2 separate regions of the Homo sapiens genome follow, and region 1 is linked to region 2. The links come from fine-mapping of genetic effects on gene expression. A gene starts in region 2. The other region holds a variant in brackets. All regions are shown on one strand. Distances are from middle to middle. Region 1 overlaps TBC1D31 (TBC1 domain family member 31). Region 2 holds the start of TBC1D31 (TBC1 domain family member 31).

Region 1 (5,390 bases), 45 kb after region 2:
TGCACATGGATGGATGTTTCAGGATTTAAGTCTTCATCTTGTTAATTGACATTTAGGTTATTTTATGTTTATTTGCTTTTCAGACAATATTATAATAAATACCCTCATAAATATCTTGTGTGAATATTTTTGTGTAGACTTCTAGAATTGAAACTACTAGGTCAAATCATTCATTTTTTCTTTCTCTCTCAGAAAATTCTGCCAACCCTGGGAAATGCCAGTGTTACTGTGTTTTCACCGACACTGGATGTTATCAGTCTTTATTTGTTGTCAGTCTGAGAGTCAGTCAAAAGATGGCAACTCAGCATTGAATATGTAACTTCTGTAATTATGAAAGTACTATCCTTAGGAGAATATGTTCTTGTATTTAGGTTGATTTCTAGCCCTTCCAAAAATGAGGATTTCCTTACATTCTCTGGAATTCCATGTCCTAGGCTCAGTAATGAAGCTAATCCCTCCCTCCTGGGGTTGTTCTGAGTATTGTATCGAATAATAAAAAATGTCTGACATAGCTTATTAACTCCATTAACTATGTTAGTTCTCTATTGCTGCTATAACAAATTACCACACATGTAGTGGCTTAAAAACAACACAAATTTATCCTTAGAGTTTGGTAGGCAGAAGTTCACCATGGGTTGGATCTCACTGGGCTAAAATCAGAGTGTCAGCAGGGCCACATTCCTTTCTAGAGGCTCTGGGGAGAATCCTTTTCTTTGCCTTTTCCAGCTTCTGCAGGTTTCCCATATTTCATGACTCAGACCCACCTTTTCTGTCTTCAAAGCACCTCTCTAACCATTCCTCTGTAGTCGTATCTCCCTCTGACCGCAACCAGGAAGGGGTTCTTTGATATTAAGGACCTATGTGATTAGATTGGACCTACCCAGGTAGTCCAGGATTAATGCCCTCACCCCAAGGTGCTTAACTTAATCATATCTGCAAAATCTCATGTAAAATAATATCTTCATGGATTACAGGGATTAGAGCATGGACATCTTTTGGGGAGGGGGACAGTTTTCATTATTCTGCTTGCCACATTAACTATAAAGTATACTCAGAAAAATAATTTATATTTAAACAGTAATGAAAGGGAATTAGCCTTAAAAATATTAAAAGCTATTATAAAGCATTGAAATTGCTGCTGACATATAAATAGATATGCAGAGTCTAACAATAGACCCAGCTACATTCCAAAATTGACTTGTTTTTAAAGATGTCATTTCAAAGTAATGAAGAAAAGATAGGTTATTTAGTAAATGACATGGAATAACTAGCTAGCCATCTAGAAAAAGTTGAAAGCATACCTCATATCTTACACCATATAAATTCTGCTTGAACTAAAGATTTAATTCCTTTTTAAAAAAACAAAACCATCAAAGTATTAGAAATAAATGTGGAGTTAGCAAGTCTGAAACTACTTTATGTGTAGAAGCCACTTTTTGTATACAAATAGCTCAATAGAGACGAGAGCCAGGTTTCTTACTCTCAGAGAAAGAAGATAAATAAGCAAAAGGGCTAGAATGAATCTTGCAGTAGTTGATTGGAATCGATAGTGTTAGTTCTTAACGTATATGCAGATAAATAGACACAGAAAGGAATATAGATATGCATGTATGCAGGAGTTAGTATACATGCATATATTGCCAAGCTCTTTCTACCGAGAAGGCCTAACAATGACACCCTGGTAACAGTGAGCGCACCTACTGGTGTGGGGAAAATACAAGATGAACCTGAAGCATCTTTTAGTGCCATAAAGTAAGGAAATGCTCTGAAAGGATGGGCATGTCACAAGGGCACGTGACTCAACCTAAAAGTTTCCAGTGGCCAAAGCTGGAACAATTTGAGGAACAAAATAAATAACAATCAATTATAACTTGTAGAATAAAATAAATATCCATGAGTTCATCCTGACATAAATAATTGAATAAATAAAGATATAAATGAGGGAGAAGGGACAGTTCTAATAAATATAGAAGGAATTAGAGATATAGAAAATCACTATTGGGACACCACGGTGATAATTGTTGGAGGCAAGATCCACCAATTGATGCTAAAATTACTGGACAAAAGTTCTAGGAGTGCCTGGGCACGGTGGCTCACGCCTGCAATCCCAGCACTTTGGGAGGTCAAGACGGGTGGATCACCTGAGGTCAGAAGTTAGAGACCAGCCTGGCCAACATGGTGAAACCGTATCTCTATTAAAAATGCAAAAATTCGCTGGGCATGGTGGCATGCACCTGTAATCCCAGCTACTTGGGAGGCTGAGGCAGGAAAATCGCTTGAACCTGGGAGGTAGAGGCTGCAATGAGCCCAGATCACACCACTGCACTCCGCCTGGGTGAAAGAGTGAGACTTTGTCTCCAAAAAAAAAAAATTCTAGGATTCACAGGATATTTGCATAGTCTTAAAATATCTCCCCCAAGACAGTTATTAATGGCAAATGGAAAAATAGTAATTTTGTAGTAGATAAACTCAGCAGATAACAGCTTAACCAAGTAAGCACATTTAAAATCACTAGTACACCAGGCGTGGTGGCTCACGCCTGTAATCCCAGCACTTTGGGAGGCCGAGACGGGCGGAT[G/C]ACGAGGTCAGGAGATCGAGACCATCCTGGCTGACACGGTGAAACCCCGTCTCTACTAAAAATACAAAAATTAGCCGGGCATGGTGGCGCGCGCCTGTAGTCCCAGCTACTCGGGAGGCTGAGGCAGGAGAATGGCGTGAACCCGGGAGGCGGAGGTTGCAGTGAGTCGAGATCGCGCCACTGCGCTCCAGCCTGGGCGACAGAGCGAAACTCCGTCTCAAAAAAAAAAAAAAAAAAAAAAAAAAAATTAATTGAGCGTGGTGGCACACACCTATAGTCCTAGCTACTTGTGGCTGAAATGGAAGAATTCCTTGAGTGTGGAGATTCAAGGCTGCAGTGAGCCATGATAGCACCACTACACTCCAGCCTGGGCAACAGTGTGCAAACCTGTCTCAAAAATTAAATAAATAAAATGACTGGTAATAAGATGTCAATATGATGCACATCACTTTTGTGATATTCTTTCCAAAAATATGTAACCTCATTCTAATCATAAGTATCAGACAAACCCAAATTGAGGAACAATCTAGAAAATAACTGATATTCCTCAAAAATGGCATCATCATGAAAAATAAGGAAAGACTAAGGAACTCTCATATTGGAAGAAACTAGAGAGACAAAACACATGTAATGTTGAATCTGGGGTTGGTGAAATGAAAGAAATAACGGAAAAATGATATCAGTGGAAAAACGGTAAAATCTGAGTAAAGTCCATAATTTAGTGAATAGCATGTGCCAGTGTTAATTTCTTAGTACTGATCATTGTACTATTTGCAAGCTGTTAACATTAGGGGAATTTAGGTCAAAGGTATACAATAACTCTACTATTTTTGCAGTTTTTTTTGTAAATCTAAAACTATTTCAAAACAGAAAGTTAAAAAAAGGAAATTAACAGTACAGGTATTAGAAGTACATGTGGGAGAATTATAATCCCAGAGGTAATGAAGGCCTTTCTGAGTATGACATATCCAGAAGAGGTTGATAAGAATAAAAATCTCTACATGTAAAAATAATTTCCAAAACAAAGACTCATGTAAAACTGAAAAAACATATGCAAAACCTGACAAATGAAACGCTGGTTTCTTTAATGTATGAAGCGCTTATATAAATAAACATGTAAAGGACCAGCCAGTAAAAAAAAAAAATGGATAAACAATGTAATATACAGTTTACAGTGGTAAAATGGTTCTTTCTATTTATTTTAGTTTTTTGTTTTAGAGACAGGATCTTGCTCTGTCACCCAGGTTGGAGTGCAGTGGTGTGACTATAGTTCACTGCAGCCACAAACTCCTGGACCTAGGCAATCCTCTTGCCTCAGTCTCCTGAGTAGTAGGCGTGTGCCACCACACCTGGCTAATTTTTAAAAATTTTTTGTAGAGATGAGGTCTCGCTCTGTTGTCCAGGCTGGTCTCAAACTCCTGGGCTTAAGCAGTCCTCCTGCCTCAACCCCCCAAAATGTTGGGATTACATGCATGAGTCACTGTGCCCAGCCTAGAAATGGTTCTTAAACATGAAAAGATGCTTAATCTTTCTCATAGAAAGAGTAATGCCAATTGGAACTACGTTGAAGTACCATTTCTCACCTAGATTAAAGGTTTTTTAAAAATCATTGATAATATGCGGCCAAGAGTATGAAAAACAGGCATCCCTTTACGCGAGTCATAGGAACGTAAATAGACACTTTTTGTGGGGGCTAATTTGGCACTGACTTTCGAAATTGCAAATGCACGTATTCTTGACTCAGCAATTCCACTTTAGGAATTTCCAAGTCTGTATTCTCATGTGAAGAATGATACACACTGTGTGGCACATACAGTGGCATTAAGCACAGCATTGCTTATAAAAGACTGAAAGCAAATGCCCTACGATAGAGATCATGTTAAAGAAATGAAGGTGGCTGGGCACAGTGGCTCACGCCTCTAATCCCAGCACTTTGGGAAGCTGAGGCGGGAAGATCGCTTGAGCCCAGGAGTTTGAGACCAGCCTGGGTAATATAGTGAGACCCTGTCTCTACCCGCAAGAAAGATTAGCCAGGCATAGTGGCATACATACACCTGTAGGCCCAGCTACTCAGGAGACTGAGGCAGGAGGACCACTTGAGCCTAGGAGTTTAAGGCTGCAGTGAGCCATGATTATGCCACTGCATTCCAGTCTGGGTGACAGAGCAAGGCCCTGTTTCGGGAAAACAAAAGAAAAAAAAGAAATGAAGGTGTATCGGTACGAAGCTATCATATCCATCTGTAAAATGTAAGGAAGTTCTGCATATACTGATATAAACTATTTCCAAGATACCATTAATTGAAAAATGCAAAGTACAGAACAATTTTTATAATATACTACCATTTGTGGTTTTTTAAGAAAGGATTTATACTTTTAACAATGGTTACTTCTGGAGAGGTGAACTAGATGATAGGGGTACAAGGAAGAATTTTCACCAAATATACTTTTTGTATCAAATTTTTATCATGTGAAGATATTATTTATTCAAATAAATTTTAATGCTAAGTTATTTTATTCACAGAACCTTATCTGCATTAGCTCACTGGTCTGTCATTTTTAGTGACACACCATATCTTCCACTCTTGGCATTTCCATTTGTAAAATTATTCCAGAACAACCAACTCATCTGTTTTGAAGTTATTGCTACTCTCATAAGTAAGTAAATACTTGTTAAAGTATAAGATCAAGAATGGATTCTTATACATTTTCCTGATGTCTTTGCACCTTTGCAACATTTAACAATTCTAGATGTCTCTACTTTTAAGTCACGAAAGTGTGAAACAATAAGGTATCAAACATAAAATAGACAATT
Region 2 (5,390 bases):
TATGTATTTATATATATACACACATAAATATATATAGGCTAGGTGCAGTGGCTCACACTTGTATTCCCAGCACTTTGGGAGGCCGAGGTGGGTGGATCACTTGAGGTCAGGATTTCGAGACCAGCCTGGCCAACATGGTGAAACCCCATCTCTACTAAAAAAAAAAAAAAAAATACAAAAATTAGCTGGGCGTGGTGGCGCAAGCATGTAATCCCAGTTACTTGGGAGACTGAGGCAGGAGAATCACTTGAACCTGGGAGGCAGAGGTTGCAGTGAGCTGAGATCACGCCACTGCACTCCAGCCTGGGCAACAGAGCAAGACTCCATCTCAAACAAACAAACAAACAAATGTATAAAGGTCCATACTGTGTACCTTTATAAATACATATGAAAGTACATATAAATAGTATACCTTTACACTATACAAAGGTATACTGTATACTAAAGGTATATTTATATATAAATAGGTATATAGTATACCTTTATATATAAATAGGTATGTAGTATACCTTTATATATAAAGGTATAAAGTATAGGTATATAGTATACCATATATATAATAGGTATATAGGTATACTTATACTATATACTTTTATACATATAGATACCTTTATATATGTATATATATTTTATATATATAACATATGTGTGTGTGTATGTATATATATATATATATATATATATATATATATATATATATATATATAAAAATAGTATGTACCTGTTACTGAGTGACTAATGATTCAGAAAGGAACTAGAACATAAGGGACTACCAATTAGTGTTGTAAGTGTATACATGTGTGTGTGTATATCCATATATATACATTTGGATATCCAAATATATATGTATATATATTTATCTGTACATTATTTATCTGTATATATACAGATAGATACATATAAATAGTATGTACCTGTTATTGAGTGACTAATAATTCAGAAAGGAACTAGATCACAAGAGACTACCAATTAGTGTTGTAAAAACTGGGAGATCTAATGAGTAGAACTTTAGCAGCTGTGGGTACACATCTCTTCAGCCTGACCTTCAAATTGTGCCCCCTAAATCAAAAGATAAGTACAAAGTGGGAGTCCAGAAGATCTAACATATAAACCTCTTTATCACATATCTGAGATTGAATAGGATGGCCACATGGGCTGAGACAGCCCAAACTAGCTTAGCTGCAGACAGGTTAAGCTAGAGAAGTTAAGAAAATCATTCAGCAGATTCATCTTTGCTTCCGATAAAAAAAGGTTGTTTGGTTAATGGTGTGGGATAGAAATGTTGTGAAATAATCTGTTTCAGGTTAGGCACTGTATCTTAAATTTAAGATTCTAAGTTTCCTAAATAATAATGCAAACATTGATACATGTAGTTTATCTCCATCTCAAAACCAATAAATAAAAATAAGAGCTGCAGTTGCTTCCTCTGCAATAGGTCATTACAAGTTGTCTGATCTCTCAGAGCCACCCCTTGATAACAACATAAAGTTTAAAAACCTGCATTAGTATTTTTTTTGAGAATTTGCTTTTCTGATCAAGAGTTTGAACTTTTCAAATACCACGACCATATAATTTTTTTAACATCATTTTTCTGTTGTAGAACAACATAGAGACTAGGAATGGAAAGATTTAAGGTTTCCTTGTCTGCAAAAGTGGATAATATTAGTACTTACCTGTAACAGGTTGATTGGTGGCCCCCCAAAATATATGTCAACATACTAATCCCAAAATCCGTGACTGTTACCTTACTTGGAAAAAGGGTCTTTGCAGATGTAATCAAGTTAAGGATTTTGAGATGAAAAGATCATCCTGTATTCCTGTATTATTCATATGGACCCAATGACAAGTTTCCTTATAAGAGAAAAACAGAGGGAGATTTGAAACAGACAGAAGAGGAAAAGATACATCCAGGAGGAGAAAGACGTGTGAAGATGGAAGCGGAGAATGGAGCGATGCGATCACAAGCAGAGAACGCCAGCAACTCCCAGAAACTGGAATAGACAAGTAAGGGAATCTTGCTTAGAGCCTGAAAGGAGGCTGCAGACACTTTGATTTCCGATGTATGGCCTCAAGAACTTCCCAAGAATACATTTCTGTTTTTTTATGTCACCAAGTTTGTGGTAATTTGTGAGGGCAGCCTCAGGAAATTAATGCACAACCTCATAGAGCACTAAAAATGGAGATAATTAGTACTACCTAACTTGTAAATTTGCTACGAGGATTAATTGAGTTGATATATTCGGTATAGTAGAAAAGTGCCCCATACCTAGTAAGCGCTCCGGAGGCACTAAGTGAATTTTTATCAAAGGAACGCTAAAGTCGAGGCAGCCAGTTGTTGATATTATTGCTTTTCTGGACCATGATTGGTGGACTGGACATCATAATGCTGGAAGGCCTGTCAGATTACGAAACTGAAGAAACGAAACAAAACCATGAGGATGGTGAAAAGGTCAGGAAGAATGAACTATTTCATCTGTAAGTTTCATTTGAGCCCGAACGTTCTATGAAAGGAACCCATCAGTTCTCAATGTATTTGTCTCCTTGCTTCTCTGCACTTGTTTCCTTGCTTCTCTTAGTTATTTCTATACAATTCCTTAATCCCTAAAAGCAATTTAGAACGGAATGCAGGGACCACAGGAGAAAATGAGTTTTATTGCCTCTGATGGGAGCCTAAAACCCCACGAGGCTCCCAAAGGGCGGAATTCCCAAGCCAATTCCTCGCGTCTATGATCCACCTGCAAAAAACTACGATTCCCAGAAGGCTTTGGGTCCGGGGGCGGGAAGACTGAGCTCAGAAAGAGGTGGACTCTAAGAGAAGGTCTTTGGTCGATTACATTGTCCAGAGAGGGAGTGGCCGCTTGGGCGGATTTTGGGAGGGATCAGCCTTCCAATTGGTTGTTATTAGAAAGGGGGTTGGTACGGCCTGCTGGTGCTGGACCTAGGCCGCCGCGGCCGGAGCTCAAATTTCCCGGGCCGGGAGCGCTGGGCCTGCCGGGAAGGCGCTGGGACGGTTACCCAGCGGGCCGCCGGCGGTCGTGGGCAAGCTTCGCCATGCAGAGCACTGACCTAGGCAACAAGGAGAGCGGCAAGATATGGCACCGCAAGCCGTCCCCGGCCACGCGGGACGGGTAAAGGCCGTGGCGGGAGGGCGCGGGCTGTGGAGGGGATGGAGACCGGCGAGGAGGGGACGCCGGGCGTCAGGCAGCGTTCCGGGTTCTGGCTCTGACCTTGCCCCGCATCCCTGGGTTGGATGACCTGCGGTGGAACAGATGGCTCCGGACGCCAGGGTCCGCAGAGATCCCCTTCTGAGTTCTGGGAGCGGGGGTCTGGTCCGGGACAGCGCGGAGCAGGAGGAGGCCGGTGGTTCTCAGACCTGGGAACTTGCGGCTTTTGCTGTGTACCGGGACTCTCCTGCTTTTATGATCACGGTATCCCGCTAGTGTCCCTGGCACGTAGTAGGTGCTCAGTGAGTATTTAACAGTTGCAGCTGGAGCAGAACTCCAGGAGGAGATGCGGGGTGGAAGAGCAGGACAATTCTGCCTCTTCCAAAGGCTGCAGTTTATCCATCCTTAAATCCTTGGATGTGTTTAGACGCACAAGCATTCATCAACTATTTGTTGAGCTCCTACTGTGTGCCAAGCACGCCTCTAAGCGCTGGGGACGGCGATGGAACAAAACACACTTCCGGTTCTCTGGAGTTTACATATCGGCGTGTATGTAGGGGCTGGGGCGTTCATTATGCATTGCTGGGGGGCTTCTAGTACGGCCAGCGCTGCTTTTCATTCTGTTCCCAGTTACCTGTCCTGTTTGAGGCTCAGCCTGTCTTGTTTCCCTGGAAGCCTTTGCTACAAAGCGGTGCCATTTGGATTTCGATTTCTGCACGCAGAGTGATCTTATTGCTCCTAATTCCCTAGGATTTCACGGAAATTGCTTGAGTTCCTGTTTCAGTGTGTTTCTTGTTCTAGCAGTGATTTTTCTTTTCTTTGAGACGGAGTCTTGCTCTGTCGCCTGGGCTGGGGTGCAGTGGCGCGACCTCGGCTCACTGCATCCTCCACCTCCCGAGTTAAAGCGATTCTCTTGCCTCAGCCTCCTAAGTAGCTGGGATTACTGGCGCGCGCCACTACGCCCGGCTAATTTTTGTATTTTTAGTAGAGACGGGGTTTCACCATGTTGGCCAGGCTGGTCTTGAACTCCTGGCCTCAGGTGATCCGCCTGTCTCAGTCTCCCAACGTGCAGGGATTACAGGCCTGAGCCACCGCGCCCGGCCTCTAGTGATTTTTCTATTGATCCTTTGGTTGCTTCTTGACAAATCAGAATTTTTTTTTTCTCTTGAGACAGAGTCTTGCTCTGTTGCCCAGGGTCGGATGCAGTGGCGCGATCTCGGCTCACTGCAACCTCCGCCTCCCGGGTTCAAGCGATTCTCCTGCCGCAGCCTCCTGAGTAGCTGGGATTACAGGCGCACCACTCCCGGCTAATTTTTTGTATTTTTAGTAGAGACGGACCGTGTTAGCCAGGATGGTCTTGATCTCCTGATGTCGTGATCCACCCACCTTGGCCTCCCGAAGTACTGGGATTACAGGCGTAAGCCACCGCGCCTGGCCGACAAATCAGTTTTAAGTGCCTACTCTGTATATCCAAAGTGCGATGCGAGACGTTTTACCAGCAGCTTGTTTGGTTCCTGGTTACTGTCAGGCCTCTTTATCAATGCCGCTGCCTCAACTACATTGAATAAAAAATTTTCTCTAAAGTGGGGATTCCTCAAGTTTTTCATTTTCAAATTCTGAGTTTGTGTGAATACCACTCCCACCTCTGGTATTCTCTAAACATTCTAAAAGTTATAGCCCACTCGCCTTCTCTTTCTTGATGATACAAAATATCTAGATATATGTGCAAGATTCAAAAAGTGAAAGAAATGGGTTGATTATCCAAATGTCTTGTTTGCTTCTTCCACTAAAGCATAGCTTATCTTTGTGTTCGTTAAAACCCATTGTTCATGCTGTTTAGACGGGCAGAGAGCACTGACTTGGAGTCAGATGTATTTTGTTGAAGTAAATGTCCGTTTACCAACTCTGTGACCTTGGGGAAGTTAATCACTAAGGCTGTCAGTGGGGAGAATCAGATTTACCAGACAGGTTGTCTTACACATTTGGTGCTCAGTAAATATTTGATATTCTTCTTGTGTTTGAGAACTGAGGAACTCTGTCAGGCAATCTGTGAGAATCTGAAAGGAAGTTGCTCTAAAATAAATTTTTTACGTGTGATTTATATGAAAAATCGGAGGGGCAGAATGTCACTATTGTGATTACATCTACATGGTAGGATTATAATTGAGTATTTGTTTCTTAGTGTATTTCTATATTTTTCATATTTTGAACAATGATTGTGTAATT

The links. PIP is the estimated chance that this variant, and not a neighbour inherited with it, causes the effect. A credible set is the group of variants that fine-mapping cannot tell apart.
Region 1: its variant is the best candidate, but not a certain one, in a credible set for the expression of TBC1D31 in whole blood (TOPMed, PIP 0.88).

What each region holds. Positions count from the first base shown.
Region 1 is chr8:123,114,956-123,120,345 of GRCh38, forward strand. It overlaps TBC1D31 (TBC1 domain family member 31), which reads left to right. Exons shown (of 22, transcript NM_145647.4): 11 at 5,100-5,233. Among named protein-coding and RNA genes, the nearest start is that of TRM-CAT1-1, 40 kb to the right of the region's middle. The variant G/C (reference allele first, on the strand shown) is at 2,579.
Region 2 is chr8:123,069,719-123,075,108 of GRCh38, forward strand. It overlaps TBC1D31 (TBC1 domain family member 31), which reads left to right and starts at 2,989. Exons shown (of 22, transcript NM_145647.4): 1 at 2,989-3,128. The coding sequence starts at 3,052. RefSeq lists a silencer at 2,892-3,041.